Homo sapiens: one gene and its partner. The protein of the gene in region 1 interacts with the protein of each later gene in a pairwise test. Each region holds a gene or a part of one and is shown on either strand. Other genes may lie near its edges.

Region 1 (7,138 bases):
CTGTCCCATTAATTCTCCTTCCCCAGGCAAGACTCGTGGCTGTGACCCATGGGCCTCTGAGGAGGCGTTGTAAGTCCGCCCAGCTCCCCACTTGCTGTGCTCTCACTCAATGCGAAGGGAACCAAGGTACCAGGGCCAAGTGGGTCCAGACATCCACACGGATTCTGAAAGGGCAGGTCAAGCAGGCACGTGGGGCCCAGGTTACCCCTTATTCCCCGCTGTGGCATGGGAAGCTGGGAAGGGCTGGGGGTTGGGGTATCATGGGATGTGCTTCCTTAACGGCTCCTTTGTGTCACTGCCAGACTTTGTCCAGCCATCAGCCACGGCCTCTCGACAGCACCAAGATGGAAGTCAAAGGTCAGCTGATCAGCTCTCCTACCTTCAATGCCCCAGGTCGGTGGCTGCTTCCCCTCCTGCTGCCTCCTCCCCTGCTCTGAATCACCACCTGCTTGCTCGGGAAGAGTTGGTCCCTTGCCCCACAGCTGCTCCAGAATGCCCTGGCTGTCCCACTGATCTTTGCTCCCTCTGTGTCCAGCTGCCCTGTTCGGAGAGGCTGCCCCCCAGGTGAAGTCAGAGCGTCTGCGGGGGCTGCTTGACCGGCAGCGGACCCTGCAGGAGGCCCTGAGCCTGAAACTTCAGGAGCTCCGCAAAGTGTGTCTCCAGGAGGCGGTGAGGGCCTGGCCCTAGGGGTATCAGGCGGGGAGGTTGGGAGGAGGTGAGGAGCTGGGGCCCCTAGGTAGACAGACTTGGGTGGCAATTCCTCAACCACTTGTCTTGGCTGTAGATTCCCTGTCACCTACTTTCTCCTCAAAGCTCAGCTTAGATGTGTTAGAATGAATGAAATAGGCTGGGCGCTGTGGCTCACGCCTGTAATCCCAGCACTTTGGGAGGCCGAGGCAGGTGGATCACCTGAGGTCGGGAGTTCCAGACCAGCCTGACCAACATGGAGAAATCCCGTCTCTACTAAAAATGCAAAATTAGGCTGGGCGCGGTGGCTCACGCCTGTAATCCCAGCACTTTGGGAGGCCGAGGTGGGCGGAACACGATGTCAGGAGATCGAGACCATCCTGGCTAACACGGTGTAACCCCGTCTCTACTAAAAATACAAAAAATTAGTCAGGCGTGGTGGCGGGCACCTATAGTTCCAGCTACTCGGGAGGCTGAGGCAGGAGAATGGCATGAACCCGGGAGGCGGAGCTTGCAGTGAGCCCAGATTGCGCCACTGCACTCCAGCCTGGGCGACAGAGCAAGACTCTGTCTCAAAAAAAAAAAAAAAAAGCAAAATTAGCTGGGTGTGGTGATCCTAGCAACTTGGGAGGCTGAGGCAGGAGAATCGCTTAAACCCTGGAGGTGGAGGTTGCGGTGAGCTGAGATTGCGCCATTGCACTCCAGCCTGGGCAACAAGAGCAAAACTCCACCTCAAAAAAAAAAAATATGGTAATACAGGCCCACTGTTGACAATTTCAAATCCAACAAACCTCAGAAAACAGGTTCTGTCCAAAATTTGGCAGCACAGTCTGACCTGAACTGGCACAGGCTGATCTGTAGTTTCAGTTTACCCCTCTTACTGTGAATGCCCACAGTGTGCCGGAAATAATACTACAGCTCAGACCACGCAGCCACAGCCCCTGAAGTGAGTTATATAATACTTAGGATCTCGATGGTATCACCTTTATAAAAACAAAACAATTCTGGATTCCAAAGCAGGTCTCCCTGCCTCCCATGCCCACCACCCCAGGGGTTTGGGCCACTGAGGTTTGGGCACACCTGCCTAGTGGAGATACTGGTAGGAGGGAGGGGAGTATCGTGCGTGGTTGCTGAGCAGGGCCAGGCTCCTGGTAGGACTTCTGTAGCTTCTGGGATCATTAATGCTTCACCCCATCCTTCCAACTAACCCTTGGTAGTCTCTGACCCCTGCCTCCCACCAGGAGCTGACTGGCCAGCTGCCCCCTGAGTGCCCACTAGAGCCTGGTGAACGGCCCCAGTTGGTCCGCCGGCGGCCCCCCACAGCCCGCGCCTACCCTCCACCGCACCCCAACCAAGCACACCACTCCTTGTGCCCTGCTGAGGTGAGCAGATGGGTGTGGAGAGCAAGAGGGTGGGAAGAGGGGACAGGTACAGAGGAGTAGCCAGGAGGAAGGTGTGGGGAGGGGGCTTGTGGCCAGGTGAGGGAGAGGCTAAGATGAGAAGGAAAAGGGCTTCTGGAGTTAGTTTCCTGTGATGAGGGAGGATGCTGGTCCCTAACTGTCAGGACAGGCCTCCAACCCTAAGGAAGATGAACAGACCCAGCCCTTCACCAAGAGAGGCCCTGACACGCCCCCTCCCCGGGGTGAATAGGTCTGAATAGGCTGCAGGAAGTGCAGGCCAGCCTCTACTGGGTTTGGCCCCGCCAGGTCCCTGTTCCTGGCCATTTCCAACATTTGGGTGGGCCCAACAGGAGCTGGCTCTTGAGGCCCTGGAACGCGAGGTGTCAGTGCAACAGCAGATCGCGGCGGCCGCCCGCCGCCTGGCCTTGGCCCCTGATCTGAGCACCGAGCAGCGCCGGCGCCGGCGCCAGGTCCAGGCAGATGCACTGAGGAGGCTGCATGAGCTAGAGGAGCAGCTCAGGGATGTCCGGGCCCGCCTTGGCCTCCCAGTGCTCCCGCTGCCCCAGCCACTGCCACTGTCCACGGGGTCAGTGATCACCACCCAGGGAGTCTGCCTGGGCATGCGTCTTGCTCAGCTCAGCCAAGGTGAGCATCCCCTGGTGAGGGTGGGAGAGTGGACACTGGCAAATGGACGTGGTAGGGCTGGGATGGGTGACTGGCCGGTGAAAACCGGGAGGTAGGCACAACTCAAGTGGCCCAACCCGTGAGAAGAGTTGTGACAAACTGGCTTACCGGAAAGGACAAACTGTGGGGGACTGATGAATATCTGCCAGGACAGTCAGGAACCAAACTGGGGTGGTCTTGGGCTCTGGTAAAAGCAGATTCTTGGGACAGGAACAGGATGAGGCGGAAACTGGCCAGAAGGTGGCCCAAGTAGAGGTGCCCACCCAGTGGTGTAAGGGGGCAGCACCCAGGCCTGGGAGTGAGAGGCCCACTTCTCCCCCTCTCACCTGTAGAGGACGTAGTTCTGCACTCAGAGAGCAGCTCCCTCTCAGAGTCTGGGGCCAGCCATGACAACGGTGAGGACTCCTATCCCCCAAACCTGCCCCCGACTCCTACGTCCCTTTAGCCCATCCCCTTTATTCATCCGACCACATCCTGCATGATCAGCCCATCCTTTGATGCCCAGCCCCTCCTGTGCTGCTTCAGCTTCTCCTTAGCCATGCTCCATCTTCCTATGGGTCCCCCATCTTCTTAGCCTCACCCCACCCCAGCCCCACAGCCCCAGAACCTACTTGTCAGCCTTAGTTCCTCCTCAGCCTGCTTAACCTGTCCCAGCACTTTGCCCCTCCCCATGGCCTTGCCCCCCAGCCTGTCCTGCCCCCTCTGGGCCCCCCTCATTGAATTCTATCCCACTTGCTCTCTTCCACTCAGAGGAGCCCCATGGCTGCTTCTCTCTGGCCGAGCGCCCCTCACCACCCAAGGCTTGGGACCAGCTGCGGGCAGTATCTGGGGGGAGCCCTGAGCGGCGAACCCCATGGAAACCACCTCCATCAGATCTTTATGGGGATCTGAAGAGCCGGCGGAACTCTGTGGCCAGCCCCACCAGGTGAGAATGAGCCCCTCCTCCCCTCCGCAGGAGCTGGGAATGGGATAGCAAGCCTGGGCTGGCAGAGGGTCTGCTGGTGGGTACAGTCTCTAACCTAGGCCTGCCTGTCTCTGTCTAGCCCCACACGCTCGCTGCCCAGGAGTGCCTCCAGTTTTGAGGGGCGAAGTGTGCCTGCCACCCCTGTCCTCACCCGGGGCGCTGGCCCCCAGCTCTGCAAGTAAGGGGAATCTGAGGGTGGGCTGGAGGATCAGAGGGGAGGGAACCATTAGTTCTCACTGGAAGCTTGAGGACAACATTATCAAAAGGTGGGATGGCTGGGCGCGGTGGCTCACGCTTGTAATCCCAGCACTTTCGGAGGCCGAGGCGGGCGGGTTACTTGAGGTCAGGGGTTCAAGACCAGCCTGACCAACATGGTGAAACCCTGTCTCTACTAAAAATACAAAAATTAGCTGGGCATGGTGGGGCATGCCTGTAATCCCAGCTACTTCGGAGGCTGAGGCAGGAGAATCGCTTGAACCCGGGAGGCGGAGGTTGCAGTGAGCTGAGATCAACATCGTGCCATTGCACTCCAGCCTGGGCGACAAGAGCGAAACTCCGTCTCAAAACAAACAAAAAAACAAAAGGTGTGGGACATGGGAGGCTGGGCATTAAAGGTGAGCAGGCATCTCGGTGGATAATGGGGTAGGAGTCAGTCTCCTCATTTGTGAAATGGAAATAATAATATCTGCCTTTGAAAGACATGGACATAATAAGTTCTGGTTAACATATACTGAGTGCCTGCCATCTGCTAGGAATTAGTGTTTTACGTGGCATCAACTCATTTAATCATAATCAGATCCCTGTGAGGTGGGTGCTATTGTTATTCCCATTTTATAGATGAGGCAAGTGAGGCACAGAAAGGTTAAGTAACTTGTTAGTAAACTGAAGTCCTGGAGTTTGAGCCCAGGCAAGTTTTACTCTAGAGTCCATGCTTTTAACCACTGTCCTCTTCTGCTTCTTAAACAGAGTGCCTACTTTCCCCAGGCTCTGAACAAAACCAAGTCCCCTTCCTTGTGGGGCTTGCATTCTGTGAACGGTGGCTGTTGGGATGGTAGCTTTGGGTGGTTCATACGTATGGTCGGATAGAGAATTCAGGCAGGGTTTTACATGTGAGCCCTAAGGCCTAGGACTTAATCCTGGAGGCCGTGCGAGCCATGAGAACGGCCTTAGCAGGGGGAGGGGTCAGCTGGATTAGGAACAGCCCCCTGCCCGGCATCTACTCTGCTAGCCTTTCCTCTGAGTCCCTACACAGATTTACACCTCCCTTGGAGCTAACAGTGCCAGGCCTCCCCCACGCATTTCTACCCCTGACCGCCTAGCCTAGGATAGAACCTCAGCTGCCCTTTACATGTCACTACCTGCCACCTTTATACACACAGCTTCCAACCTTGGGCCCATTTGGAGATGTGAAAGTGAAGGCTTAGAAAGGGCTGGGGTAGGGAGGGCACTGCACGCCTTCTGCCTGATTTTTCTGACCCTATTCCCATGACCCTCGCCTCTCACCCCAGACCTGAAGGCCTTCATTCTCGTCAGTGGTCCGGCAGCCAGGACTCCCAGATGGGCTTCCCCCGGGCGGACCCTGCCTCCGATCGCGCCTCCCTCTTCGTAGCTCGCACCCGCCGCAGCAACAGTTCTGAGGCCCTGCTGGTGGACCGGGCCGCTGGTGGGGGAGCTGGCTCCCCGCCTGCCCCTCTGGCTCCCTCTGCCTCTGGCCCCCCAGTCTGCAAGAGCAGTGAGGTGCTGTATGAGCGCCCCCAACCAACCCCTGCCTTCTCCTCCCGCACAGCAGGCCCCCCAGACCCTCCCCGGGCCGCCCGGCCTAGCTCAGCTGCCCCTGCCTCCCGAGGTGCCCCCCGGCTCCCACCTGTGTGTGGAGACTTCCTCTTGGACTATTCCTTGGACCGGGGCCTGCCCCGCAGTGGCGGTGGAACAGGCTGGGGGGAGCTGCCGCCTGCAGCTGAGGTCCCAGGACCCCTCTCCCGCCGGGATGGGCTCCTCACCATGCTCCCCGGCCCACCACCTGTGTATGCAGCTGACAGCAACAGCCCCCTCCTCCGCACCAAGGACCCCCACACCCGTGCCACCCGCACTAAGCCCTGTGGCCTGCCCCCAGAGGCTGCCGAAGGCCCTGAGGTGCATCCAAACCCTCTGCTGTGGATGCCCCCACCCACCCGTATCCCCTCGGCTGGTGAACGCAGTGGCCACAAGAACCTGGCTCTGGAGGGGCTGCGGGACTGGTACATCCGGAACTCGGGACTGGCTGCGGGGCCCCAGCGCCGGCCTGTGCTCCCTTCCGTGGGCCCGCCACACCCACCCTTCCTCCATGCCCGCTGCTATGAGGTGGGCCAGGCGCTGTACGGGGCCCCCAGCCAGGCGCCACTCCCACACTCGAGGAGTTTCACGGCGCCCCCTGTCTCTGGCAGGTATGGGGGGTGCTTTTACTGATGGGTAGGGGTCTCGTAAGGCAGATGGCGAAGATATCCAGGCCAGGGAGTGGCTAGTCATGATAGCTAATGAATTGGACCATGAGGAAACTAGCTGCTGTGATGGCACAGGGTCACTCTACTGCACATGACCTGCATTAGTCCATGGGGTCCTGGTGGAGGGGATCTTGGGCACTGGTAGCAGCAATTCTTTATCAAGTTATAGGCTGAAGATGAGCCTTGAAGCCAGGGTGCCGGGAGGAAGGGACATCTCATGCCCCTTGCTGTTTTCTTCCTTTTTTCTCCATGCCCCAGAGCCTGAAAGTGCTGTCCTGTGCCTGCCTCCACCTCTTTAACGAGCCTCTTTTCCTTTCTTTTTCTGTGTCTTGTCTGTCTTTTCTTCTTCTTGTCTTCCCCGCCCTGTCCTCCGGATTCCTGCTACCCCTTCTAAAGATACTACGCGGACTTCCTGTATCCCCCGGAGCTGAGCGCTCGTTTAAGTGACCTGACGCTAGAGGGGGAGCAGTCCTCCAGTTCTGACACCCAGACCCCGGGGACACTGGTCTGACCCCTTCTGATATGTCCCTTGTTGGCCTGGGCACGATTCCAATCTGGGGAGCACACAGCTGACCTCGCTGGGCCCTGGGGTGTGGTTGCTCTCAGTCCTGAGCAGAGTGCGCCAACCTAATCTTCCAAGGCCCCTGGCTCCCCGTAGGCCCAGGAAGGTGTCTGACACCCTGCTTCTTCTCTCACACTGTGCTGGGGACTGGGGGCCCTCAGCTAGCTTAAAAGAGGGGGGATGATGTCATGGGGACCCCAAGCCCCTTCCTCCATTTATGTTTACAGTTGTGACTTAGGTATTCACTGTCTTCCTCCAACACTAGGCGTTTTACAAAAGGGAAACTGTGATCTCATCTGGTTGGGTTCATTCCTGTTCCCATGCCCAACCAGGTTCCATTCAGGAACCCCCTCCATAAAAT
Region 2 (7,000 bases), on another chromosome or scaffold:
CTCTCGGTGTATAGAGGTCAGTGCAGCCCCCTGCCGCCGCCCTGTTTTCTCGAGACTGTACACTAACCCCTGCCGCCACCACCCTGGATCCTCAGCACAGGGACTGTCGTGCTCTCCTTGTTCCCTTTCCAGGTGTCTCTGTAGCCTTCAGGACTGTCGCTGCTGCAGCCATCCTGGGCTAAGAGCTTTTGCTGGCCTCGGGTTCTACTGAGCAAGAGTCCCCCAGGCCCAGCGGGCTCAGTGCAGCAGGCGGGGTGGGACGGTGCCGCCAAGAGAGGGCAGCCTGGGGCTGGGGGCATGGACAGAAACTGAAGGAAAGGCAGCCTGTGGGAGCTGCGCTTTTAAAATAAGCGGCATGGGGGGCCGGGGGGGGCGCTGTGACGGGGGAGCAGGTCTCTTCTGTAGGGACTGGGTTTTGATTAAGTCAGTAGCAGGATTAAGTCATTGGGTCATCAGAAAATCTCATGGATAAAGTTCAAGGGGTTTGTGAACTTTAAAAAAAAAAAAAAAAAAAACAAAGAAATAGCCGTCGGCACGGTTCAAATCTGGGCTTGGTGCTCTGGGCTGCTTTTCCACAGGCCCTCCAGGCCCTGGATCTGCAGAGTGTGAGCCCCACTGATTGAAGCATGTTCGTGCACAGACGCCATGAGGGGGATGGAGGCTGCAGGAACGGGGGAAGGCAGGCGGGGGTCCTGTGAAGTGTGAGCTCCCAGCAGTTGCATGCTGGGGTCCTCAGTTTCATGTTGCCAGTGCGTCAGAGAGCCATCTCTCACTCCGTCCCTGCCACCGTCCAGTCCTGCCTGCTGTAAAGGGTGACACTGAGGAGGAGAGGCGTGATGGTTCGTGCCTTGCTATACTAGTTGTCCTGCAGCTGTCCCTGATCAGACTGGCCTTATTCAACCTTTGTTCTAAACTACGGCAGTTGTCCTAGCCAGGCCATCGGTTAGATGGAGCTGCTGCAGGAGGAGCCATCCAGCATTGAGGTACCCCTGGAACACAGGCTGCCTGCTCGGAAATGCGCATCTTTGTCCTTCTCCTGCCTGCACCTTGGAGCCATGGCTTTAAAGATTCCTTCTGTGATCTCCAAGAGAACCAGTCGAGCATCAACACTAACCATTTTGTTTTCAAAATGCTGAAAACTGCTCTGGGAAGCTGGAGGTGCTATCGAGGGGGACCCCATGGGTTTATGAAATGACAGCCGTTGGGGAGTGGGAGACACCTCCTCATCCTGTGACATAGCTGGCGGGAGGCCCAGGCTGCATAATGCAGATGGGCGCGAGGCCCCACCAGTGGGACAGGTCCAGGTCTGATGGTCATGTGCCCTGCCTCCCGCCCAGAACACAGTAGCATGTGGCCAGTCTGCACTCGGGCCAGCCTGCAGGGAGCCATTGTGCTCATGTCACCCTTTGCAGGAGCGAGCCCAGCAATGAGGAGGCAGGACATTACTCCCTGTGACATTGAGAGCAAGTTTTTCAAACACAAAGCTCATGTTAAGAAGCCTGCAGTGCACACAAGAAGTGGGGAGAGGGGTGGGAACGGAGGACACGGGTGGTGATGGGAGGGGCATGTGGGCTTGTCAGAACACTCTGTGTTTGAAAATGTCAATAACAAGGAAGGGTTTTGTTTTGTTTTTAACAAAAATCCTGCTGTACCCAATATAAGCAGCAAGCACTGCGGTCCTCACCTGTCCTACACCGGCCATGGTGGCCCCTCGCGGGCAGTGCTCGCCTCAGGCCTCACTAAGCTTTGGGCACACGGTTTCTCTGGCAGCAGCTACCAGCGGGGATGCCAAGCCCGGACTCAGCTCAGAAGCAATGGAGGTGGCAGCGCTGGGGCGCGGGCTGTGGACTCACTCACCTGGACGCTCTGTTTCTGTACAGGTCGCACGGGGCAGGCGGTTGCAGTTCGAGCCAAGGCCTTTGGATTCAGCGTCATATTTTATGACCCCTACTTGCAGGATGGGATCGAGCGGTCCCTGGGCGTGCAGAGGGTCTACACCCTGCAGGATTTGCTGTATCAGAGCGACTGCGTCTCCTTGCACTGCAATCTCAACGAACATAACCACCACCTCATCAATGACTTTACCATAAAGCAGGTAATTTGAAAATAGATGCCATGGAAGCTTCTGTCGAAAGGTGGTAGCACTTGCTTGTGGGCACAAGAGGGACACGGAGGGCAACGGAGGTGGTTTCTGGATACACTGTTGAGCAGGGAAGAGGCCCTGCAACAAACCAGTGACAAGCCACGTGAAGCCCCTTCCTCGGGCTGAGCCAGGCTAAGCAGAGAAGGACAGGCGCTAGCCAGGACCCAGCTTCAGAAGCTTCCCAGAACCTTTAAAGAGGCCAGCAGCTCGGCACAGTCCAGCCTTTCCACCGTGTTGCTTCCTCTCAGGATCAGCAGCAACGGCCCTGGCTTCCAGCCGTCACCAACACTTCCCACTCCCTTCCCTCAAACTGCAGCACACACATTAAACCACCAGACCAACAAAACTAGCTTGCAGCTTTCTTCTTTAAACCTTGGTACAAGAGTCTTCCACCATGCCAGTGTGCCTGTAACCGGCTTTTCTTTCCTTCCACAGATGAGGCAGGGAGCATTCCTTGTGAACGCAGCCCGTGGCGGCCTGGTGGACGAGAAAGCCTTAGCACAAGCCCTCAAGGAGGGCAGGATACGAGGGGCAGCCCTCGACGTGCATGAGTCAGAGCCCTTCAGGTGCGTGTTGCCCCAGCCGCCTACCAGGAGCCCACAGGGCCCAGCTCCACACCTGACCCCCACACTTTGAACTCGAGGCCCTTTTCCCAAACAGGTCCCTGGGCAGGAAACTCCAGAGATGACATTTACAGTCTCTGTTCTTCTAAGGATTGTGCTGTATTCTAATTGTAAAAGGGCTGGAAGTTTCCCAGAGGTCATCAGGGAAAGGAGAGGCAGAAAATTGGTGGGGGTGTGGCAGTGGTTCTGGTCTTCAGACAGACAGGCATCATCTCTGCCCTGGATTACAGCAGGACAAGCCTTCAATAGAATTGGGCTTTTTGATCTACCAATTATACGGTTCTTACACAACTTTGATAATTACATTCAAAAATTCCCAGCCTTCATAAAATATCATCACAGATGTTCCTGTATCCATGCTATCTATGTAGCTACTTTTCTACATGGCCAAGAGCTCCCTTGTGCTGAGGAGGGCAGGGAGCGTATGCGACATTTCCCGCTTACTCTGTTTTTTCTACATTTTTCTAGCTTTGCTCAGGGTCCGTTGAAAGATGCCCCGAATCTCATCTGCACTCCTCACACTGCCTGGTACAGTGAGCAGGCGTCACTGGAGATGAGGGAGGCAGCTGCCACCGAGATCCGCCGAGCCATCACAGGTGAGCCCCTCCGTGCCTCTGGCCTGCCAAGGGCAGCCTCAGCTCCACAGTGCAGCCGGCTCCTGTCCTGCTGGCTACAGGCAGCTCTCGACAGGTAGAATTCACTTTTAGCATCAAATTTATATGAGTTGGGCCCTGTTTATTTACGTAAGCCCTGAACTAAACTTCACAGAGGGAACCATTCCCTTTAGTCCCAGACATTATAAACTCGGGGGTCGGGGGGCACACAGAGGCTGAAGGTCAGTGTTGAAGAGCTCAAGCACTTGGGCCTTTGGATGTTCTACATTTTTACAAATGCTTATTTCCCCACATAAGCAGCTACAGGTGTAATGTTGAACTTACTGTGATTTGTAAAAATAATATGATTAATTTTAATCATCTTACCCTAGGTCGCATCCCAGAAAGCTTAAGAAATTGTGTGAACAAGGAATTCTTTGTCACATCAGCGCCTTGGTCAGTAATAGACCAGCAAGCAATTCATCCTGAGCTCAATGGTGCCACATACAGGTGAGAAAAGGAACTGACTTTGTCTCAGCTTGTGAGCACCACGGCCCCGGGGCCAGGGAGAGAAGCCCAAACTTGGCGGAAGCTTAACCTCCCGCAGATGCTAAGTCAGGGTCAGAACAATCAGCCTTCTCAGCAGGAACTGTGTACACCGCCCCCATTTCTTCCAATGCCTAATTTCATGGAACAAACAGAAGCTCCTATTTTAAAAGGGGGTGTGTTCGGTCAGATGTGATTGACCACAGGTGCTAGGAACTGCCTTTCATTCTAAAGCCATCTTAAAACCAGAAGGCTTCCCAGTCACGTGTGGTGGCGCACACCTGCAGTCTCAGCTGCTAGGGAGGCTGAGGTGGGAGAGGTGCTTGAAGCTGGGAGGTGGAGATTGCAGTGAGCCGAGATCACCCACTGCACTCCAGCCTAGGCCACAGAGTGAGACAATGCTGCTACCCCCCGACCCCACCCCACCACCAAAAAAAAAAAAAAAAAAAGGGCTTCTCAAAGAGAAAGGTATACGTAGATAAGATGTTCAAGTGCAAAGGCCTGTGAGCAAGTTCATTTTCCAATTTGAATCTTATGTCCACAGAAGGCATTCTGGTACAGTCAACTCAGGATAGTACAATCAACTCAGGATGATGACCTTGTCCACACACTAAAAATGATACCTGTAGTTTGGGTCAGCTGAGAAACTGGAGCCATGTTTGGGAACGCAGAGTGGGGGAAAGACAGGAGCCCTCACAGGGAGAAGGGGTTCCTTTTGTGGTATTTTCCATGCACGAATCGGTTTTCTCCCACACCCCCCCCCCCATTATTGCTGGCTTCCCAGGAAAATCAGTAGCCCCCTCATGCATAAATGAATGAAGTTGCAGCCTTGAATCTTAAGAAAAATTTTTGCATATTCTAAACCAGGGTTTCTAGCTCTTGGCAATAAGTATATTTGGGGCCAGATCATTCTCTTCATTCTCTCGTAGGAGGCCTGGCCTGTCCTGTGCATTGTAGGACGTTCAGCGGCATCCCTGGCCTCTACCCACGGGATGCCAGTAGCACCTCCCACTCCCACTCATGATGATTGAGAATGTCTCCAGCCACATGTCCCCTGCTGTAGCCACAGTGACGACCAGGGTGCATTCAGTTTGTGTAATGAAGGCTCTGACACTCTTGAAGAAGCTATGCCGGTGCTTGCAGGTCACATGGCTGTCTTCACATTTCATCCAGCCCCGTCCTTTTGGCCCTCAAAAGTATTTTGAGCCTATCACAGCACCAGATTCCCCTGTTGGGTGGAGCTGGGGGCCCACCTCTTCCATGTCTCCATTGTTATTTATCCTTCACGTAAGCTGGGGCTCTTAGGCCCCCTAGAACAGTATGTGTGCACTGAGGAAGGGACCCTAATGACCAGAGTCCTTCTGAAGGTCTTGGTGACAGGATGGCAGGCCAGGAGCTGGGGGTGGGGTGGCTACCATAGTGAGATGCCTCCTCCTCTACCTGGATGGATGATAAGTCTGTGTGAATACACTGAGTCCCACTTTGCCCGAGGACCCTGTGTTCTGTGGTTGGCGAATGCAGTGTGTCCTCACACAGCACTTCGTGCTTGCAATATAAAACCAGCCCGAGCCTGGGCGTTCCGAGGAAGGCGGGCCCCCAGCCAACAGCCAGCAAGCATACCACTTCCCATCTCAGGCCATGGGAGTATATAGCCAACCAGCCTAGAAAGCTTAGTGAGTTCTGGCTGCCATAATTGAGTAGCATAGACTGGGTGGCTTGTAAAGAAATGCCTTGCTCGCAGTTCTGGAGGCTGGAAGTCTGAGATGAGGCTGCCAGCATGGTCAGGTTCTGGTGACGGCCAGGCAGCAGACCGTCAGCTTCTTCCCACATCCTCATATGGCAGAGAGAGGGCCAGAGCACTGACTAGACTCCCTTGTGTAAAGGCACTGATCCCATTCATGACCCAGTCATTTCCTCACCCAGTCACTTCCCAAGGGCTCTACCTCTTAAGGTCATCACCTTTAAGGTGTGGGATTTGAACTGGAATTAGGGGGATGGAGGGAGACAAACATTGAGTCCCTAAGGGTCCATTGTACTCTGTTGGGAAATCATTTTATCAGTCAGAAGTAACTGGTGAACAGTTGGGAGTCCATTTTGTACAAAGTGGGTTTTTTTAAATAGTATAATGTATCCACATTCATAAATAGTATGGGCTAATATCTTCTTATCTAAAAGCTACAAAATTAGTGGCCCCGTGTTTGGATTGGACTAGTTTTGTTTTTATGAATTAGTTGCCAGTGTTTTATATAAAAATTGAGACTTCTCCTTGCTTTGGGGATAGGGAAGATAAACTATCCCATAAAAATCGTTAGCCAGGGCCGGGCATGGTGGCTCACGCCTGTAATCCCAGCACTTTGGGAGGCTGAGGCGGGCGGATCACGAGGTCGGGAGATTGAGACCATCCTGGCCAACGTGGTGAAACCCCGTCTCTACTAAAAATATAAAAATTAGCCGGGTGTGGTAGCGCACACCTGTAGTCCCAGCTACTTGGGAGGCTGAGGCAGGAGAATCACTTTAACCCAGGAGGCAGAGGTTGCAGTGGGCTGAGATTGCTCACGCCACTGCACTCCAGACTGGCGACAGAGTGAGACTCCATCTCAAAAAAAAAAAAAAAAACTATTAGCCAGGCCTGGTGTCTCTCGCCTGTACTCCCAGGACTCTGGGAGGCCTATGATGGGGCATCACTTGAGCTCAAGAGTTTGAGACCAGCCTGGGCAGTCTGGCAAAACCGCATCTCTACAAAAAAATACAAAAACTAGCTAGGCGTGGTGGCTCATGCCTGTGGTCGCCACTACTTGGGTGTCTGAGGTGGGATCACTTGAGCCCAGAAGGTCGGTCAAGGTGAGCCATGTTCATGTCACTGGGCTCCTGTCTCTTATGAAAAGGCCAGAAGTAGAAGAGCCAAGAGCTTGGCAACTCTGCCCTGAACTTACAAGGCCCTATTTCTGTGTGTTCCTTAGATATCCGCCAGGCATCGTGGGTGTGGCTCCAGGAGGACTTCCTGCAGCCATGGAAGGGATCATCCCTGGAGGCATCCCAGTGACTCACAACCTCCCGACAGTGGCACATCCTTCCCAAGCGCCCTCTCCCAACCA

Evidence for each region. The genes of interacting proteins can lie anywhere in the genome.
Region 2: the proteins of CCDC120 (region 1) and CTBP2 interact in binary tests that used the Homo sapiens proteins (3 or more experiments, as listed by UniProt).

The regions. Positions count from the first base shown.
Region 1 is NC_000023.11:49,061,933-49,069,070, forward strand, and holds part of CCDC120 (coiled-coil domain-containing protein 120), read left to right. Parts: intron 1-26; 5' UTR 27-109; coding exon 110-172; exon of another isoform or gene 173-185; intron 186-302; coding exon 303-393; intron 394-535; coding exon 536-669; intron 670-1,928; coding exon 1,929-2,069; intron 2,070-2,437; coding exon 2,438-2,732; intron 2,733-3,103; coding exon 3,104-3,166; intron 3,167-3,521; coding exon 3,522-3,696; intron 3,697-3,814; coding exon 3,815-3,913; intron 3,914-5,243; coding exon 5,244-6,158; coding exon of another isoform or gene 6,159-6,180; exon of another isoform or gene 6,181-6,611; coding exon 6,612-6,726; 3' UTR 6,727-7,138. UniProt on the Homo sapiens protein: Centriolar protein required for centriole subdistal appendage assembly and microtubule anchoring in interphase cells. Together with CCDC68, cooperate with subdistal appendage components ODF2, NIN and CEP170 for hierarchical subdistal appendage assembly.
Region 2 is NC_000010.11:124,989,564-124,996,563, reverse strand, and holds part of CTBP2 (C-terminal-binding protein 2), read left to right. Parts: intron 1-1,880; coding exon 1,881-2,095; intron 2,096-2,578; coding exon 2,579-2,709; intron 2,710-3,234; coding exon 3,235-3,362; intron 3,363-3,751; coding exon 3,752-3,869; intron 3,870-6,865; coding exon 6,866-7,000. UniProt on the Homo sapiens protein: Corepressor targeting diverse transcription regulators. Functions in brown adipose tissue (BAT) differentiation. Isoform 2 probably acts as a scaffold for specialized synapses.